2 separate regions of the Homo sapiens genome follow, and region 1 is linked to region 2. The links come from fine-mapping of genetic effects on gene expression. A gene starts in region 2. The other region holds a variant in brackets. All regions are shown on one strand. Distances are from middle to middle.

Region 1 (5,360 bases), 120 kb before region 2:
AAGAGGCTCCAGCAACCAAGTGGCTCCGGGGTAAAAGTGGGACTGTCCGGGTGTTTGGGGACATGAGCTTATGCCACCACCCCAGACGCCCCCCATCCCCTAGATGTACCCATTACACTCACAGCTCTGGAGCCTCATCTGCCTCTCTCACATCCCAAAGGGAGGGGGACAGGAAGGAACAAAATTTCCATGAGAACAATAGCAGTCTCTGCTAAATTTAACATAAAACAAGAACTCATTACTTCTGCCTGAGATCTGATTTCATGTCTGGATACAGTTAACGGGTTTTTCCTTATATTCCAAAGAAGCAAAGTTAATTCTCAGTGGCCGGTGGCCCTGAGTGGGGTGACGTGGGCCCCACAGGTGCTCTCTGCCCCACCCTCCTCCTCCATCCTCACCTCCTGTCCTGCCAGGGCAGGAGCAGCCCAAGAGAGACCACTCTAAGGTGTGGCACACAGTGTGACCACCCAGGAAAGGACCCAGGCTGTTCTTCCAACTTCTCCCTGAGACCCAGCGCACAGTGGGTGCCCAGGAGGGGTGCCCACTCCCTCACCTGAGACCCATTCTCTGGGGCTGTCGAGGGCTCTTTCTGGAACACAGTCAGCCAGCCAGCCAGCCAGGAGATATTGACTGAGGGCCTGCTATGCTCTGGGGCTGGTGTATTCCTGCCTCATGGAGGAGTGAGGAATCTACGTGGCTGAGTCAGGGCCTAGCCTGGGTGGGGCTGGGGAGGCTCTGTGGGGAACCAGATTTCCACAGAGGACGCTTCCACGGATAAGGAGGACTAGGAGGCAATGGGGAAGGCCTGGCACGCCGCCCGCCTGAGGTAGACAGGAGGGCAGGTCCACTTCTGCGCCCCACTCAGGAAGGCCCTGTGTCCCCCCATCTCCCCGTTGCCCCCCTCAGACTCCAGCCTCAGTGCAGCCCCACCCTCTGCCCTCCACGCCTGACACCCCCCAGGCCCAGTGTGGCTTAGACTTCAGGTCTATGCTGCACTGGTTTCCCACGCCTCTGCTGGCCTTTCTCACCTGCACAGGTGACCCCTTCCCACGCCTCGCTTGGCTGAGCCCAGACTGGCAGCTCTTGCCCTCCACACCTCCAGATCCCCAGAGGGCACTTGTCTGGCACCAGGAGGCCCCGTAAACAGGAATGAAGAGTGAGTCGATAAACAGTAAATCAATCAGCCAATCACTCCATGGATCCATGTGAGTACAAGGAGGATGATTCTCCAAGCACAACAGCCCTTGCCAACCCCAGTGAACCCACCCTTCCCCAGGAAGTCCTGCTCCCGGCTTTACCTCACCCTCCCCACGTGTGGCAGCGCCACAAATCTGGGGACACCTGTGGAGCCCTCGAAGCTAGGGAAGAAGGGCTGTGTTCTCAAACTGTGTTCCTCAGCCCCTGGAGCTAACACAGGTGTTGCCCAGAAAGGGTTCCCGGTCACAGGCCTTTGGGAACCACTGGATTAACACCACTGCTCTCCTGGGGCAGGGCCTTGGAGTCCCTGGGTATTGGGTTAGACCCATGGGCTCCGCCAGTTACCACATGTGCTACTCATCCTCTCTGTGCCTCAGTTTCCACCTCCATGCGTACATGATAACAGCTCCATCCCCGACTGCTGTTGGGAGGGTGAGGTGGGACGACACAGGTAATGCCACTGGGAGTGCCCAGCTCAGAAACCACCCGCACCAACCCTACGGCTGTGACGGAGCCTCTGTGAGAGGGCGTGGGAGGCCGGGTTGCCTACAGTTTGTCTGGGGAGTGTAGGCCTCCCCCACCCCCAGCACAGCCTCCTGGGGGGTTTCTCCCGCATTCCTGGCCCCCAGGGATGGAGCCAGGTGCTGAGCTGGTTGGCACTTCTTGCAGGGAGGCCCAGGTTCTTGGCAGGACCTTTGGACCCAGGCAGCAAAGTGCCCCCAGGTCCAGCACAGAGAGGCAACCGTACAGGGTGGGGCCTGTTCCCCAAACCACCCCCACAACAATCCCAGGTCCACGGCCTGCTGAAGAGGATGACAGGCTGGCTGCAGCCTTAGGCTTCAGGATTGGGGGTGGGTGTGGGGGACATCTCAGGTTTTAATACGCGCCCCAGGGGAGTTGGAGGCTCAGCCAGGTTTGGGCCGCACAGGAGGGAATTGCCAGGAC[C/G]TGCATTTCAGGAATGAAAGGAAAACCCTCCAAACATAACCTGTTCTGAAGAGGACCGGGTGGTTGGGGGGCCGTGAGCCTCCCGTTCTTACAGGAAAGCAAGCAGGACTGGCCAGTGCCTCAAAGGCACTGCAGGGGACCTGCTGGCCCCAAAGAGCCCTGACACCATGTCTTCAGCTGGATGCCAGGAGATGGGGTGGTCCCCCGAGAAACCTACCCCACACCACTGCTGCAGCCCCCCACCGTGCCACCCTCCAGCCAAGCCACTTTGGGCCCTTTCCTTCCCCACAAATCTCTCAGGACTTGCATTATCACTGAGATTAGGGGCACGTGTGGGTAAGACCCCCGAATGGCTGCCCTGCGGCCAAGAGGCACCTTAAGTCCCGGGGCTCCGGCTTTGTGTATCTGACTCCGTCTGTTTTGTCAGACTCAGGACTAAAAAGCTCCTGCTCAAATGAGAGAGAGAGAGTGGGTGATACCTACCCCTCCATGGCTGCTTTCCTGTACCTGGAAACTGCCCTTACCTGGCTACCACTGGGTTCTGGAAGCTTCCCTTCTCCTGCCCCTACTTCCCAGGAGGGGTCTCTGGCCTCACCGAGCAACCTGAAGAAGAGGCGTCGGAACCTGGGAGGGGTCTAACACCCCAGGCCACACCCCCACACCCAAGTTCTGTGGCTGAGTCTTATCACCCAGCCTAGGAGGGTCCCGGACGCATGGGAGGGCACCCAGCTGGCCCTGAAATTCTGCCTCCGTGGGTCTGACATTGGCTCATCCACTTTCAGGCACCCCAAATAAGGCATGCTTCCAGGACCCCCCCACACATGCCGCTGCCTCCCCGCCGCCGCACCCACGTCACCTTCCAGTGCTGACACTGCCACCTCCCCACCCGCCACCCTGTCCAGCACCTCCAGAGGACCTTCTCCTCCTGCGGCAAAGTAAACAGGCTCTCTGGAGTGCTAACTGACAGCACAAATGAAATCCTGCACTCCCTCCCTCTAAGATTTACAGGGGAAGTGAAATCTTATTTGCAATGCTGCCAAGCCTGGGACGAGATGAAATTATGCCTCAAGAAGAGAACTGGCCGGCCCGGCGAGGAAGCACTGCATCGGAGATGGGCTTATTAAAACCACAGTGGCCACATTTCAACCTGTTTCAGGTGTTAAGTAATTTACTGCCACCCAGAATTCAGTGGCAGGTTTTTATCATTTTTATTCTTGTGATGCAGGCGAGTGCCCCAGGAGGTCCCTGTGCAGGGAGCTGCGGGTCTAAATGCTCCCTGTCACCCCCGCCCCAGGCACTGCAGAGGGAAATGGGGGCCAGCTGCCTGAAGCGGGTGAGGACACCCTGACTCTCTCCAGGGTTACACCCAGCTTGGCCATAGCTCAGAGTGACGGGGAGGGCAGGCTTTAAGACCCTCACCCCACCCACGTGTGGGGGCTCCATGATCCCTCAAAGACCCTCGGGACGTTTTCTTTTTTTTGATGGAGTCTCGCTCTGTCACCCAGGCTGGTGTACAGTGAGGTGATCTCGGCAGCTTCCGCCTCCCAGGTTCAAGCGATTCTCCTGCCTCAGCCTCCCAAGTAGCTGCGTGTACAGGCGTGTGCTACCACGCCCAGCTAATTTTTGTATTTTTACTAGAGATGGGGTTTCTCCATGTTGGCCAGGCTGGTCTTGAACTCCCAACTTCAATGATCCACCCGCATCGGCCTCCCAAAGTGCTGGGATTACAGGAGTGAGCCACCGCGCCCAGCCCCTCAGGATGTTTTCTGAAGGCAGCAGGAATGTAAGCTCTCTGGGAGCAGAGACTACCCTGTTTCAGGCTGTGACTACCAACCAAGCCTTTATTGAGCACCTACTGCATGCCAGGCCCTGTTCAGATGGGGAACATGCAGCAAATGGGACCGAGAGCCCCCTGCCCTGTGGAGCTCACGTGCTGCCTGCCGGTAAGTGTTGAGTAAATATTTGTGGTTGGTTGATGAAAATCTCCTACAGGCAAACAGGCCCTTGAAAGAAAAGAAGCTGAGGAGGGGGGCAGGGGGAACCGGAGGGAAGTGAGTGGCGGGAGGGAGGGGCGCACTTGACTGAGCATCTGCTACATGCCAGTCATCACAGTGACTGCTGGCAGCCCTGGAAGTGGGGCCTCCCCATGCCGGAGCTGCTGGGGCCAGGTCTCTGCACCTTCCCCTGCTCTGGAGAACTATGCAGAAATGGCTGATACTCCGTCTGAACTCATGAGGAACACAGTCTCCTATTCATGGGGAGCTGGGGACAAGGGGACCTACAGTCTGGGATGTGGTTAGGAACAGCCCCACGTCCTCCAAGCTCTCGAGCCCTTTCTCAGTGGTCCCGGGAGGAGAGCTGTTTGATGCCTGCTGGCTTTGGGGGGATTAAGCCTATTATGGAGGCTCCCGGGGCTTATCTGATGCCTTTCTCCACCTGTTTTCAGATATTCCAGGAAGACCAAGGGGAATCTTCTATGTCCAGGCTGAGCCAAGAGCAGAAATTCTTTAATTAGCTTTCTCCTGGATCAGGGCCCTGGCGGATGGATTGGTCACTGGGGGTGGGGCGGGGGGAGGGGAAAGGGATTGAAGTCCTCTTTAAAGCAGAGATTACAAACCCAGGGTGAAGGGCTTCAGGGCAGTTGCCAGGGACGGGCGGGTCCTGAGCAGGCCCTCCCCAGTCAGCGGCTCCTCGGGGTCTGGCAGATGGAATCTGCCACCAGGAAGATGCAGGGATGTGCTCTATTGAGCCCGCGGTCCTCAGGAAGCTGGCACAGAGAGATGCTTGGCACAGTCCAGGCTGTGTGCCCGGGTCTCCTAATGAATGTGGCTCTTCCCCATGTGACCATCCAGATCTGTAACTTCATAATTAGGGGGGATTTCCTGAAGGGGCGCCCATCTGCGAGAGGCAAGGCAGCGGGGGCCAGTGGTGCCAGGCGCCAGGCATCTGTCACCGAGCTTCATCCTCACGGCAGGGAGGTGCGGCAGGCTGGCTTACTCCCATTTTAAAACCAGCAAACCAAGGCCCAGATCTAAGCAGCTTGCCCAAGGCAATGGTGACGGAGTTAGCTCTGGAACCAGGTCTGTCCGGGTTCCCCCCACTGCCCCGAGTCCTGGCCCCATGAGGCCTCATGAAGAGACCAGGCTGAGGGTCAGTGAGCTGGAGGGAAATGCACACCCATGAGCCCCAGCCAGAGCGCCCTGTGGGGAACTAGACCT
Region 2 (5,360 bases):
TTGGGATTGGCCCCGGGGTCACACAGCTGGGGCTGCATCCAAACTCCAACCCAGGATGTTGGGCTCCTCCTTTGCCCTATAGTCAGAGAGAAGAGACCAAGAGAAGACAGAGGCTGGGCATTGTGAAGGCAATGGGCTCACAGGGCTCAGTTCAGGGAAGGGTAGAGTGAGCTGACCCCTCCCCTTCCCGTGCCCCTCCTCCGGCCTCAGCCTCCCTTCAGCCAGTCTGGGTGCCGAGGAAGGGCTGACCCTCGCTCTTGCGGATTAGGTAGGATCCACCCTCTCCACCGGGAGCCCTATCCGTGGCCTGGCCTCCTGCCCTAAGCCTGGCCTGATAGGAGGATCACTTTACCCCAGTCCAAATTCCCCACCACACCCCACCAGGCCAGGCCAGCTCCCTCTGAACCCAAGCATTGTTTGTACCTTGAGGGTGCACACAGATTAAAGGGGGAAGACCCTCAAACAGCCCCTAATGCCCAACAGCTTCTGTGGAAGTGGGGCCTGCAGGCCATGAAGACCCCCAGCCCTAGCTCTGCCCCCAAGATGCTGTGACCCTGAGCCCTGACCTTTCTGTCTGTCCTCCCTCAGGGTTGGTGTGAAGGTCTCCAGCCATGTCCGTGTCCACAGGTCAGGCATTCTTTCTGACTCTCCCTCTTCCCCCCACCGCGCCATGCCCAGGCACACCCAGATTCCTGTCCAGTTCCCATGGCTATCCACCCGAGACCACTTGGTGCAGGTGGGCATGCTGGCCTGCCACCTTCTTGGAAGCTGGGCCACAGAACCTTAGCCTTGGAGTAGAAATACTGGGTTCAAATCCTGGCTCTGCCCCATGGGCTGAGAGGCTGTATGCAAGTCACTTACCTGCTCAGAGCCTCTTCAGGGGGCTTATGGTCCTGACCTCCTGTGGTTGGGGGCCCATGCCCAGCCCTGGCCCTCCTGCCTGAGCCCTACTGGGACTGGAGTGTACCACTGCTCCTCCTCCTTCTAGCCTCAGTCTGTGGCCTCCCCAGCCCTACCCCTTCCAGGGCCCCAGCCCCCCTCCATTAGAGTGCATCCTTGAAGCAGAGGCTCTGGGGAGGGTCCTGTGGGTCAAGACCGCTCCTTCAATCAAGGGTAGAGTCCGGAAAGGCTGCCTGCCTTCACCATTACTGCCTGCTGAGATACCCTATTACCATTACCAAGGATGGAAGAAAGTGTCTGGGAAGGAAGGAGCCCTGTAATGGGGGCTGCCCTGGCCTCCAGAGACACAGGGTTGGGGGAGGAGAGAGGCTTAAGCCCAGGAAACAGGTGCCCATCCTGTTTTTTTCCACAAGGAGCTGCTGCCCAATGCTTCTCTAAAGTACGCTTGCACAAGGCCTAGGGCCCACAGCTCAGATCCCCTAAGCTCAGGCCTTGGCTCCAGGCTTTGCTAGCCCTGGCACAAGCTGGAGGTTCCACTGCCCCAGAGCTGACCTATGCCCTTTCCTCCCTCCCTGGTATACCCACAGCTTCCAGCTACTCATGTCAATTTGGCATCTCCCACCCATTTGCTTATGTATACAACAACCTTTAGGTTCTGGACAAGGTGACTGAGGCACCTAGAGAGACTAGGTTCTGCCACTAGCAAGAGGCTGCTAGCAAGAGCCGGATTTGAACTCCAGCCTGTGAGGGCAGAGGCCAAGCTCCACCTTGCATGGTTCTGTTTTCCCAATGAGGTCTAGAGGCTCCTGGGCCTCAGGAAGTCGGAGGGTTGAAATCCTCCTAAGAAGCTGTGTGACCTTGGGCAAGTCCCTTCCCCTCTCTGGGCCTCAAGTGGAGATCATAATCACACCCCACAGGGCCAGGGCTGAGAGCGAGGAGATCCGCCAGGTTAGAGTTGATGGAGAACTTGGCGGGGTGTGGAGGAAGGCCAGGGCCAGGCAGGGCTCCTTGTGGAGGTCTCAGAGCCTGGGGCAAAGGGGCCTGCAGGGGAGCTCCTCCTTTGCTGACCCCTCCTCCCCCAGAGCCAGCTGCATCTCTTTCTGGGTTTCTAGGTGACTTGGCTGGCCCCTCTGGATGAGTTCTACTTTAAACCTGCTGCTGTTACTGCCTCTGTATTGGGGGGGCTCCCACAGGGGCCCCCAGGCAGGAACCCCCCCCACCAGCTAAGCCCTGCGGGAGGGGCTGCAGCCCCCACCCATCCCATTGCCCATGCGCCTTCCCCGCTCCCATCTCTGGAACGCAGATTTCAGGGCACCTGCTGTGGGCCAGGCACTGCAGAGCCCCTCCTCAACCCTCCTGTCTGGGGACATCCACAAAGCTTCTGACCCCTCTGGGCAGACAACAGCGTTCCCCCCGCGGTTCCCAGCCAAGAGGCTCACAGTCAGGTTCCAGTCATGGGAGTCTGCAGCAACAAGAAGGGGGCTGTTCTAGGGCTCACTCTCGAAGACCAGGATGCTTGGGTCCTTAAAGGAGGTGGCAGGCGCCCGGCCTCCCTGGGCTAGGGACGGGGGAGGGGTGCCTGCCGGCGGGAGGTCCATTAGCCGGCTAAGTGCTCCCAGGGAGGGGGGACCGCGCGGCATAAGAGTGGGTGAGGCGAAGCCAGGGCAGAGGGGGGCGGAAGAAGCTTTTCCTGCATTCAGCTAAGTGCGGCAGAAGAGGGTGGGCGACAGGGCTGTGCAGCGACCCCCCGGCCCAAGTCTAGCCCTCCGCTGGTACTGCAGCCCTAGTCGCTCGGAAACCTCAGTGGGCTGATCCCGGACCGCCTTAAGCAGCGCCCTCTACACCCAGTCCCTCCAGCTGCTCCCCAACAGCCACTTCGGCCCCCAGCGCCCTCCTTCCACCACAGGCCTGAAGAATCAGGTTCTGCTGAGCCCCGCAGCAAAGCCCCCGACCCGTCCGCGTGCCCCTGCCCCAATCCCCGCTCCGGCTGCAGTCGCCGCCCCGGCCGCCAGGGGGAGCCGACGCGGTGGGAGGGGGCGGGGCCCGGGAGGCCCCGCCCCGTCCCCGCCCCGCCCGGGCCCCGCCGAGGCTCTGGTCGGTCCGGGACAGACTGGCGGGCGGGCGGGCACTGACGCCGCGGGGCCGGAGCGGGCCGCGCGGTGGGAGCAGCGGCGCCGTCGGTCCCCGTCAGGGCTCCGTGGGTCCCCGACCCGCCCCTGGCCGGGCCATGGCGGGCGCCCAGCCCGGCGTCCACGCGCTGCAGTTGGAGCCGCCCACCGTGGTGGAGACCCTGCGGCGCGGGAGTAAGTTCATCAAATGGGACGAGGTAAGCGCGCGGGCCCCTGCTCCGCCCAAATCCCGGGACTCTTTCAGTCAAGCTCGACCAGACGCTGGGGACCCCCACCCCAGCCTCGCCTGCCCGTGGCGCCACCCTCATCCCAGTCTGGCGGCGCCCCGGAAACTTAAGTCCCCGATCGTCTCCGTAATGAAGACTTTGTCCCCCCAACTCCCAGTCCCTCAGCTCTGGAAAATTTGCCTCCACTCCTTGGCGCAGAGACTTTGAACCCCAATAAACCCCGTCCCCCCGTTTTCCATTCGTTCTTCCCACCGCTCCCTGCCAGACTAATTCTCGTTCCCCGATCCTGGCCTGGTGCCCAGACCCCTGCCCAGCACTAGACTCCCCGGCTGCAGGACCCTGACTTCCAGGCTGGCTGGGGGCATCCTCATTCTGGGTGTGTGCCAGGGCGCCCCTACTCTCCCCGGTGCCCTGCCTGAACAGTCCTCGTCCATTCATCATTTTTCCCCCTGTTCTGGTTGGCACCCCTTCGCCCTGCTTCTGGATCCCAGCCCAGCTCCCTGTTCAGATGGGAGCACCCAGTCACCCCCTAGTGGAGACTTTGCCCCCCAAGTTCCTCCACCCCTGGGAACTTTGCTCCCCACTCCTTAGGCTTGGGACCTTGAACCCCAATACATCCTGGCCCCCCTTTCCCTGTCCTGCCCCTGGTGCTTCCCAAATGCCTGTGTCCCCACCTTCGGCTGCCCATCCCCATCCTGGGTGCATCCTCTTCTGCCCCCTGGGCCCTTCCTTCCCTAGGGCCTCCACCCGGCCGGCCTGAGCTTCCTCGCAGCTCCTTCCCAGTCAGGCCACGGGCCTGGAAGACTCTGGGCTCTTTTCCGGCTGGGTGGGGCCCCGGGGTAGGCGTGGGAGCTGGGGGGAGGAGATGGGGGCGTGGCCTGAAGCGGCAGGTGTGCGAGGTGGGGTGCCTGGGGGCCCCAGGGGCCGGGGGAGACCCCTCCCCCCAGGCTGGCCTGAAGGGAAAAGTTTCTTCTTTTCATTCCACTGTGATAAACCCAAATAAGGAAGTGGGAACAGGGAGAGGGCCCTGGGGGTGGGGTGGGGGGTGCTGACGGAGGCTTGGGGCAGGAGAGCAGGGGACCTGGGCTGCCTTTGAGGTCCAGACCCCTGGGGAGAGGTGGGAGGGAAACACTAGGGGCAGTACCCATAGACTCCCCGCTCTGCACACCATTCGGGGGCCTCAGGCCCAGGGTAGGGTTGGGAATCCGGAGAAGTGCTGGGGCTGGGTGTCAGCACACTGAAGTGGGGAGGCCCATGCATCCCCAAATTTTGGGGGCCTTCTGTTCCCAGATGAACGCCCATCTTTTGTAAGCAAAGCCTGCCATGGGTGGGGCTGGTGCAATCCCCATTCTCCAGAAGAGGAAACTGAGGTCTGGAAAGCAGAGAGTTATCCCAGGCCCCACAATGGGGTGTGGCTGAGGCCAGGAGCCGGGAGCCTGGCAGAAGTCTCCGCTCCCTGCTTCCCAGGTCACAGGACGCTGCAACCACACTGCCTGCAAGCAGGTCCTGGCTCCAGTGATCTCGGGCAGGCTACGAAGTGTCCCTGTAACTCAGTGTCCTCATCTGTAAAATGGGAGTGACAACAGCACATGCCTCTTAGGCTGGTTAGGAGGCCTTTGTGTGCTCGAAGATGCTAGGTGCATAGAACTGTACCTGGTGCGCAGTAGGGGCGGTGTGCGTATATGAGATGTATTGATAATAATAGTATTGTCCACCAGACACTGAGATGCATTTTGGGGGTGGCACCCAACATGAGGTGGGGTCCTTTTCTGTCTGGAAGAACCTGGAATAGGAGGGTTCTACCTGTAGCCACTTGTTCACTCTGGCCCTGGCCGAGTCTAAGCCCTGGAGGACAGCCCCTCTGGCTGCTGGTCCTGAGTCACACAGGGTGGCCCTGGTAGTGTGCCAGGGACCGGGCCCTTCTTAGAAAATGGGGCTGGCATGCACTTCCCTGCCCCCTGCCAGCTGCACGGCTGTTTGAGGGAGGAAGAGCTCACTGCCCAGTCCTGAGAGTAGGGCAAGTCCCCTTCTAGGGGGACTGTTCTTCTACGAGATGGGGATGAGCTTTGAGGCTGTGAGGACCCCGGCAGATGTGGTAAGGTGG

Which allele goes with the higher level. Positions count from the first base shown, and alleles are read on the strand shown. Sizes are in standard deviations (SD) of each study's normalised expression.
For the expression in tibial artery of the gene that starts at base 3,008 in region 2, allele G in region 1 goes with a higher level than allele C (moderate effect, 0.52 SD a copy in GTEx).

What was found. PIP is the estimated chance that this variant, and not a neighbour inherited with it, causes the effect.
Region 1: its variant is the best candidate, but not a certain one, in a credible set for the expression of PLCB3 in tibial artery (GTEx, PIP 0.70).

The regions. Positions count from the first base shown.
Region 1 is chr11:64,127,732-64,133,091 of GRCh38, forward strand. All of the region lies in intron 3 of MACROD1 (mono-ADP ribosylhydrolase 1), which reads right to left. Among named protein-coding and RNA genes, the nearest start is that of MACROD1, 36 kb to the right of the region's middle. RefSeq lists an enhancer at 1,746-2,339. The variant C/G (reference allele first, on the strand shown) is at 2,143.
Region 2 is chr11:64,248,523-64,253,882 of GRCh38, forward strand. It overlaps PLCB3 (phospholipase C beta 3), which reads left to right and starts at 3,008. Exons shown (of 31, transcript NM_000932.5): 1 at 3,008-3,226. The coding sequence starts at 3,128. RefSeq lists enhancers at 1-506, 507-1,152, 1,153-1,800, 3,095-3,740, 3,741-4,387 and silencers at 2,820-3,289, 3,777-3,990.